2 separate regions of the Homo sapiens genome follow, and region 2 is linked to region 1. Evidence: fine-mapped expression QTL. A gene starts in region 1. The other region holds a variant in brackets. All regions are shown on one strand. Distances are between the middles of the regions.

Region 1 (4,389 bases):
AAATCGCGTCCTGAGAAGAGGACCTAAGCATGTCGTGGAAAATCAGTATGCTTCTTTATGAACATTTATTTTAAAAGAGCGAGAGAGAGAGACTAACAGGTTTTTCTGTTTGTGATTGAGAATTCATTCACAGCACACTGACCGTCTCCCATTGGACTCTGAATGCGGCCTTTGTGCTCTCACTGACGTCAGGAGTCTGATTGTCTTAATATGTTTCTCAAGGCACAACCTATAAAAGCCGTTTTCTGCTGTACCGTAGAATATTCATGAGAATACAGACTTTTTTGTTTTGATGCTGCATTCTTTAAGGAGAGAAGGTTTTATTGTTTTCTTCAGGGTGCTTTGGGTCAAAAGCACTAGCAGCTTCTGTTGGGAACTCGTGGCATTTTGAATGGTTTTTGATACAGAAATAGCACAAGTCACGTCTGACACAGCCGTAGGCGCACGAATGCGTGAATGCGATTGTGGTTCTCATCTCTGCAGCTGGTGTGTGGGGCCGGGCCTGGGACAGCTTGGGCCTCATCCCCACCCACCCGGCTCCCAGGATCCTCATTAGGAAGCCCTCAGGAGCCCTGGGGTGGGTCTCCTTGCCCTGTGAACGCTCCATTTGTGTTATTGAATCCAACATAAATGCAGCATTGTCTTCAGAGGTGAGCAATGGCCGTGGCCGGAGGTGCGCATGGGATGCAGGCGGCGTGTGCTGCTGTTGATTTTCTCTGCTCTGCTCTTAGCTTACTTTAGCAGATAGTGGAGTTTCACGTGGCAGTCCGGTAAACCAAGGCAGTGTGAACATCCCTTCCCCACAATGAGTGAAAATGCAGGAGGTGCCGTAGTGAGAACAGCGACAGCATTCTGCGCATTGGTGAGCCCGACTCCCCAGCCTCGGTGCCCACCGAAGCCCCCTCTGGCTGCACTGTGCCAGTGAGTCCAGGCTCCTTCTCAGCAGAAGGTGGCTGCTCTGCAGGGCCCCTCGCCTCCCTGCTCCTCAGGGGACCCGCACTCTTCCATGTCCGTAGGGAGACGCGCACCGAGCTGGAGACACAGATCTGCGAGGAGTAACTTGCCTCTCTCACCAGCACTGCCAGGGGCGGATCAGCGCCAGCACCTTCCAGCATGCGCTAAACTGCTGGAGAAGCTGGAGTGGCTGGAAGGAGCCCTGCCTGCCTGCCCTCCTCCTCCTCAGTTGCTGGCCTTGGCAGCTCTAGGGTGACCCAGCAGGGGCCTGGAGGAGTAGGAAGCAGCTTCCCAGCTGCAGTCTGCATCATCCTCTCTGTGCTGTCACAGAATGGAAGGTTTTAGCAGAAAAAGGAGTTTGTAAGCGACATTCAGAAGATTTGGGCAGCAGTTTCTTCCCCCATAGGGTCCTGTCTTTTGGGAGTGGGGAGTGCTGGGCCAGGCTGCTCGCTGGCTGTTTCACAGGTGGTGGAATTTAAGAGCAGACTTGGGTCGAGCTGTGACCGTTCAGGTGATGCACGCACAGGAGGTTCAGCTGTGTGCCTGTGAGGCGGGCAGGAGCGTCACCCAAGCTTCAGAAGAGAATTCCCCGGCAGCAGCGTGGCGCTCAGCATGTTCCGTGTCTGACTGTTTTGATTGTCTCTCAGTCCAGTTGACAAATTCCTTTTAAGATGAAATTTGAATTAATTTGCAGAACTTGTACAAATCTCCAAGAAAACAGCTTAAGGAACAGATTAAAGAATGAATGCCTTAGGAATTAAAGCATTAATAGCTCTTGAGTAGACTGGATGGAAAGATGAGTTGTGTAGGTTATCCAGATGAGGCTACATCCAGGGAGCAATTCTTACCTTCAGAGGGCGCTGCCTGTCCTCCTTGGCATCCAAGTGAGCGCATCTCCTCCACGCTCAATGATGAATGCTGGCCGGCATCCCTGTGAGGAACCTTGTGATCATTTTCCATTTCTGAAAACTCCCAGGTGGTGGGGGCCCTTGGCCCACATCAGCATTGACCACCCCGGGCTCAGATCTGGCCAGGTGCCTGCGTTGTGATGGGAATTTCAGTACACTGAATTTTGCCTCTGACCCTGATGAAATAGCTTCGGTGGCATTTGCATCAAGATCATGTTAGTGTCATCTCTATTAGATGCTTTGGAGCAAACATGAACTTGGGTTTCCTTTTAAGATGTCCTGTGATTCCAGATTCAGGGGAATCTGAGAAAAGTTTGAAGAAAGAAAATTCCACTCGGCCAGCCAACCTTGGGTGTGCAGAGCCTGCCCCGCCTTCCCCACTTTGTCCTGAGAAGCTGGGTCCTCCCCAGCACCAGAGTTGCTGCTGCTTCCCCTCGCGCTCTTGGCTGCTCTCCCGGCCCCAAGCCTGAGTGACACTCTAGGATTGCAGATGGCAGGCTGGTCTCTGGGCTCCCCCGTCCCCATGACCCTCCACCTGCACCCAGACCTCTGGGTCCTTGCTCAGGCAGCCCCTGCCCTCGGTGAGACGCAGCCCACTGTGGGCCCTTCCCCTGGGCCTGCCATCAGCTCCTGTGCTCCTCGGCGCCCCAGCGGCTGCCCTGGGCCCGTTCCCACAGCACCTGGCACACAGCAGGAGCCATGAATGTTCTTTGGGAACTGAATGAGGAGTGGAAATGCGGGCATGTCATGTTTTTGAAGTTAATAAAAAAAATCCCTTAAAAGTTGTTTTATGTTCGGTTTTTAAAGAGATTAACACCAGACGTTTACAATGCTGCCCCCTCCCTCCATCTGTGAGAAATTAGAAATGGAGGGGGATGCGCTAAAGCCAGCAGCGGGTCAGGCCTCTGCCCAGCGCCTGTGGTGGGACCCTGTTTCTACATGGGACCTTGGGTGACAGCAGCACATCTTATAAGCAGGGGTCCCACCCAGGCCCCCCACACAGGGATAAATGAGGCGAGACGTAGGCAATAACCCAGCTTCCAAGATGCAACGCTGTGCAGTTACTTATTCCCTGTGCTTATTTGTTCAAGCTAAAATGTCTCTGTTTGACCAAACAGAAAGAATATGAGAGAGACCAGTTTCACCTACAAATATAGACACCAGCATTCTAAATAACATGGTCGTTGTTGATGCTATTTTGTTTTTCTAACTTTATCCCTTCCTGGAGATAAATGCAACTTTGTTCTTCTACATTATACAAGTGTATGCCTTCCCCGATGGGTTCACCCATGGGTGCTGACTGTGTAACTTAGAAGAACAAAGTTGTGTTTATCCCTGGAAAGCACGGGCCCGCTCACCTGAGGCACTCTAGGAAGTCACTGCAGGGCACTGGTCCCAGGAGAACCGCGTGCCAATCACAGCCATGAACGCGGAAGAGGGAACCGCAACCTGACAGTCATTCACGAGACTGTGTGTTCAGGAAAGCATTTAGCACCGCCGTGCTTGTGAGAGCCGGACCCGTAGCCCCCAGTGCCCACAGCAGGGAGCCCGCCAGCTGAGTCTTCTTCAAGAAGCCAGGCCCCGTTCTCTTTTCTCCGAGTTTGCGAGTTTGCTGACTTAGCTCTCCTCCCTGCCTTTCATATATTTTATTCCTTAAAAGAAAGTCTGAAGCAAATGTAGGTGAACGCTGATGTTTCATAAAACCAGCATTGCTTACGCAGTTTTTCCATTTTGCTATATTTTGTCATAAAAATGATCAGAAAAGGGAAGAAAGGAAATGAATAGGGTCCAGTCCTCACCCACATATGGGGTGGGGGAGTGGGTGGACCCCTGCTTTCTGCTCCTGCACATGGAACAGTCCTCACCTATGTGTGGGGTGGGGGGTGGGTGGACCCCTGCTTTCTGCTCCTGCACATGGAACAGTCCTCACCCATGTGCGGGGTGGGGGGTGGGCGGACCCCTACTCCCTGCTTCCGCACATTGAACACGCAGTTTATGTGCGTAGATTCTTCTCACATAATAGCAAATGAAAACCTTTTACTGTGTCAAAGTCGACACCCAATTAAAAACTAAATACATGCATTTTAAAAGTTGGGGGTTGCACTTCACTGATTTGGGGAAAGAAACAGAAACAGTCAGAGAGGAGGATTTCATTTAAAAAACAACAATAACAACGAGGCAGCCCGTGCTGCGCTGTGGAATGTGATCAGATATATTCAGAAGCTTCTGTCACCTTCTGGGTTGCTTTGTGTCTTTTCACTGTCCAGGAAAGTGGCCTGAGCTGGTCTTCGTGGCCTGAGGCCTGGGCACTCCTCAGGTTCAAGCCAGTCCAGCCAGGGCAGCCAGCAGGGCCAGGTTAGGAGCATGATTGACTGCGGTGGGGCAGGGGAGGGGTGAGGAGACAGTGAAGTCAGCCAGAGAAGCTGAGAGCACCCCTCACCCTGGGCACCAGGAGCTCAGGTGACTGCAGCTCCCACGGCTAAGCGGCAACCCAGGGATCAGAACCCCAAGCTCCGGCCAGTGCCCA
Region 2 (4,389 bases), 70 kb after region 1:
GCCAGAGATGAAAGCACACATCTACACGTAAACTCACTCAGGCATTCACAGCAACCTGAGTCCCTGTTTCAGGCCATTCCTGCACTGCTGTAGAGAAATACCTCAGACTGCGTGATTCATAAGAAAAGAGGTCTGATTGGCTTCTGGTTCTGCAGGCTGTAGAGGAAGCGTGGTGTTGGCCTCTGCTTCTGGGGAGTCCTCGAGGAAACATTCAACTGTGGTAGGCGAAGGGGGAGCGGGCACATCACTTGGCAAGAGCAGGAGCAAGGGGTGGGGAGAGGGGCCACACACTTCTAACCGACCAGACCTCACCAGAACCCACTCATTACAGTGAGGACAGCACCAACAGACGGTGTTCAGCCGTTCATGCCAAATCCACCCACATGATCCAGCCACCTCCTGCCAGGTCCCACCTCCAGTATTGGGGGCTAGGCTTCAGCAGGAGATGTGGGCAGGGACACAGATCCAAACCGTATCAGTCGTAATAACCGTATCAGTCGTGATAGCCACATTACATGGGAACAGCCCAGGTGTCCATCCTGTGATGCGCGGCCACACGCCGGCACACCGGAATGTCACATAACATGGAATGTCATATAACGCGGCCACACGCCAGCACACCAGAATGTCACATAACGTGGAATGTCATATAACGCAGCCACACGCCAGCACACCGGAATGTCACATAACATGGAATGTCATATAACGCGGCCACACGCCAGCACACCAGAATGTCATATAACGCGGCCGCACGCCAGCACACCGGAATGTCACATAACGTGGAATGTCATATAACGCGGCCACACGCCAGCACACCAGAATGTCACATAACATGGAATGTCATATAACGCAGCCACACGCCAGCACACCAGAATGTCACATAACATGGAATGTCATATAACGCGGCCACACGCCGGCACACCGGAATGTCATATAACGTGGAATGATGTGCGGCCACATGCCGGCACGCCGGAATGTCATATAACGTGGAATGACGTGCGGCCACATGCCGGCACACTGGAATGTCATATAACGTGGAATGACGCACGGCCACACGCCGGCACGCCGGAATGTCATATAACGTGGCCACACGCCGGAATGTCATTCAGCCATAAAGTGGAATGACACTGACAAGCGGCAGCACGGGAAGCCTTGGAAGCAGGATGCCAGGCACGAGAGGCCGCGTGTGGTATGATTTCATGCACATAAAACGTCCCCAACAGACAGACTCACAGAGACAGGACACAGACTCGTGGGAGCCAGGCCTGGGCTGCTGCGGGCAGATGGGGAGCATTTCTGGGGAACAGCGCCTCTTCTTAGGGATGGTGAAAATATTCCAAAATTAGATATGGTGATGACTGCACAGCTCTGTAAATATACTAAAAACAACAAATGATATCATTTAAAAGCGTGAATTGGATGGTATGTGAATTATATCCCAGTAAAGCTGTTACAAGGAAGAAAGAGGATGAGTTGATGGGAGGGGAACGTGGAGAAACCTTTGGCAGATTTGGCGACAGACGGAATCATTTCTCCGTTTATTGTCTCTCCTGTGAAAGTGCCCCCCTCACTCCACCCCACCCCCGTTGCTTCCCTGGATTTCAGGACCGGTCCTGGGTTGTCCACCTGTCCGGAGGCTCAGGGTCTTCTGTGGTTTTCCTGAGGGTGAAAAATTGGGGTTAGGACTGGGGAGGAGATAGACTTTCCTAGCACACGTAGACAGGAGTTGGAAAGTGAAATACCAGGATCCCAGCAAGAGCAGAGGTAAAGCCGTGGGGAGAGACCCCTACACCACCAACACTGCTGCCTCTTCCCGCAGCCCTGACCTCCTGATACCATTAGCCCCTCCTGCCTGCCTGGTCCCAATTTCCTTCTCTCAAGCCCCACAGTTCCAGCCCAGAAGAGGAGTCAGCTCAGCCCTGGCGCAGTGGTCAAAGGCTTTGATTGCGTGGTGTCCGGTCCAGTGGGGCTGAGTCGGGGAAGGCCCCTGGGAGATGGCAGCCGGCTGTGGCCCAAATCCATCCTAGTGTGTGAGCCATCATGGGGCTGCAGGCTCAGGATTGAGGAGATGGGCCCCTTGGGGCCTTGCTCCAGGGTGGCAGCCACGTCAGACCAGATGCCCAGCACAGGCCACAGCCTGGCCCCTGCTGCCCACTGGACACCACAAAATAGGCTCACCACCCCCACCCCACATGCCCCTCCACCCCCAAGCCCTCATCAGCGGACAGCAGGGAACGCATCAGAAATGGATGGGGCACCCAGCAAATCCCCTCATTGGGACGGGAAGGGCACAGGCTGTGGGCGTGTCGGGCGCCTGCCAGGCATCTTTACTCCCAGGTGTCAAAAGCACTTTCACATCCGTCTTCCTAATGCCAACTTAGGTTTGTTAATTTTATTATGTCATTATCTGAGTGATGGGGTAGGAGGTTTGAGGAAGACAGGAAACACCTATTCACATGCCGTATACTCTTGAAGGATTTAGAAACCGGGTACTCTCACTGGAGTTTGTTCTCTGATTGATTTACGGGAGTGAATGACAGTTGATTGAAACGTTTAGACAGTGTTTTCCCAGGATGCCCAGGAAGACAAGAATCTT[G/A]CCCAGGGCCGCCTAACACTGACGTCCCGGCCCTTCCTCTTGGAGGATGACGTCCCCAGGGGCTTGTTCCCTGAGGGCATCTGCCCAGCTCTGGCAGCTGTGAACCCTCCTGTCCCACTGCGCTGCTCCAGCCTACATTGGGGTTGCAGCTGGGGCCGGCTTGGTCTGCCCCTCCTTCAGCCTGTACCTTAGAGGGCAGTTGTTTTGGAAACATCACTGTGAATAAAAAAGAAAGAGAGGCGGCCCGTGCCTAGCCCTGGTGTTCCCTGCAGCCATATGTAGCCACTCTAGTTTTCCCGAGGCCTGCAGCCTGCAGAGCTGCCCCTTTTGGCTGAGAAAACTCCACCAGGTGGACAGGATCGACCCCGAGCTGGCTCTGCTCTCCTCTCCCCAGCCTGTGGTCGGGATGGTGGCAGATGTTTTCCAACTGTGTCAGCTTCTGTTGCCCGTGCCTTGTATGCAGTGGTGTTTATAAGGGTTTGCTGCATGAAGGAACTTTCTGGAGAACGCACACCATCAGAGGGCGAGTGGACCTTGGAACTCTGCAGGTGAAACTGGCCCTCCGTGTTCGCTGGCCACGTCCGGACTTGGCCTCAGTTATGTCTGGTTTGCGAGCAGTGGGTGATGTGTGTCCAGGCGAAATACCTCTTTCTATTAAAAGAGGACGTTCGTTGGAAGGTGTCCTCCACCCCTACAGCAAGAAGCCTTGCTTCTCAAGGTGGTTCTTCCCATGGTTTCTGGACTCTGCACAAGAACCTGCCTCCTGCAGAGCGGAGGGCCTCGGGTGTGTTTCCCTTTAACTTGACATCCTCGGTTTTGAATATGAAAACTTGGACTCATATTTTGGGTGGTCTAATTACGAGTGTGTCCGATTGTTTTAAAATACTGGCAGTTTACCAGTTCGGTTTTGGCCGTGAACTCCAGCCTGACTTTTTAAAAATGTAATTATTCCAAATATGGAGGTGCATTTGTTCTTCCTGAATTGATGAAAGGGGCTCTCAGTGTCCCCAAGGCCTTCGGGCTGCACAGAGCTGCTTCAATTGTTTGCCCGCGTCCGGCTCACCTCCCAAAGCCAGCTCTGCAGTGCAGCCCCAGCCCACAGCCCAGCCAGTGAGACTCAGAACTGAATGTCAAAGGAGAGAGAGAGAGAGAAGCAGGCTTTGTTTGCAGCCATGGCCCAGGGAGGTGACCCACAGGCGCCTGCGTCAGTGCCAAGGCAAGGGGCCTGGCCTGCGTCACAGAGGGCTCTGACGTGGCACCACTGCCAAAGTGACATCCTCCTCAGGCCCTGCCTGAGAGCCCTCGCCGGAGGCCCACGGTGTGGAGATGATCCCTCCTCCAGGCCGAGGGGCGTGCGGCAGCGGGGGACACTTCAGAGGCTTCATCCTCGTGAAAGGGAGGAAAAAGACCTGGGAATGTTGTCACTAAAGGACACTAAAGAGATGCGGCCCCTGGCAGCACACGCCATCCGCAGCCAGCCGGGGAAGGGCCATCCAAGAGCCCTTGGAACAGTGGGGAGGTCTCCTGATGCACAGCACGGTAGACGCGGCTGCCGAAAGCCTCAGGCAGGCAGGTTGCAGTGGCCTTGGGGCCCCTGAAACAGCCCCCCAGGAAGAGAGGCTGACCCCCGCTATGACCCCCACTACCTCCACCGCCATTCATCTGTGCATAGGGGAAGGACGTTTGAGATTTTCTTACAGAGTTCTTGAAGTTTTTCTTTAAGTTTGAAATTTAAAGCTGGGCATGGTGGCTCACACCTGTAATCCCAGCACTCTGGGAGGCCAAGGTGGGTG

Direction of the effects. Positions count from the first base shown, and alleles are read on the strand shown. Sizes are in standard deviations (SD) of each study's normalised expression.
For the expression in tibial nerve of the gene that starts at base 2,334 in region 1, G is the low allele of the variant in region 2 and A is the other (small effect, 0.29 SD a copy in GTEx).

What was found. PIP is the estimated chance that this variant, and not a neighbour inherited with it, causes the effect.
Region 2: its variant is the best candidate, but not a certain one, in a credible set for the expression of HDAC4-AS2 in tibial nerve (GTEx, PIP 0.54).

The regions. Positions count from the first base shown.
Region 1 is chr2:239,191,590-239,195,978 of GRCh38, reverse strand. It overlaps HDAC4-AS2 (HDAC4 antisense RNA 2), which reads right to left and starts at 2,334. Exons shown (of 2, transcript NR_198956.1): 1 at 1,803-2,334; 2 at 1-1,617. All of the region lies in intron 3 of HDAC4 (histone deacetylase 4), which reads left to right.
Region 2 is chr2:239,121,199-239,125,587 of GRCh38, reverse strand. All of the region lies in intron 12 of HDAC4 (histone deacetylase 4), which reads left to right. Among named protein-coding and RNA genes, the nearest start is that of MIR4441, 37 kb to the right of the region's middle. The variant G/A (reference allele first, on the strand shown) is at 2,597.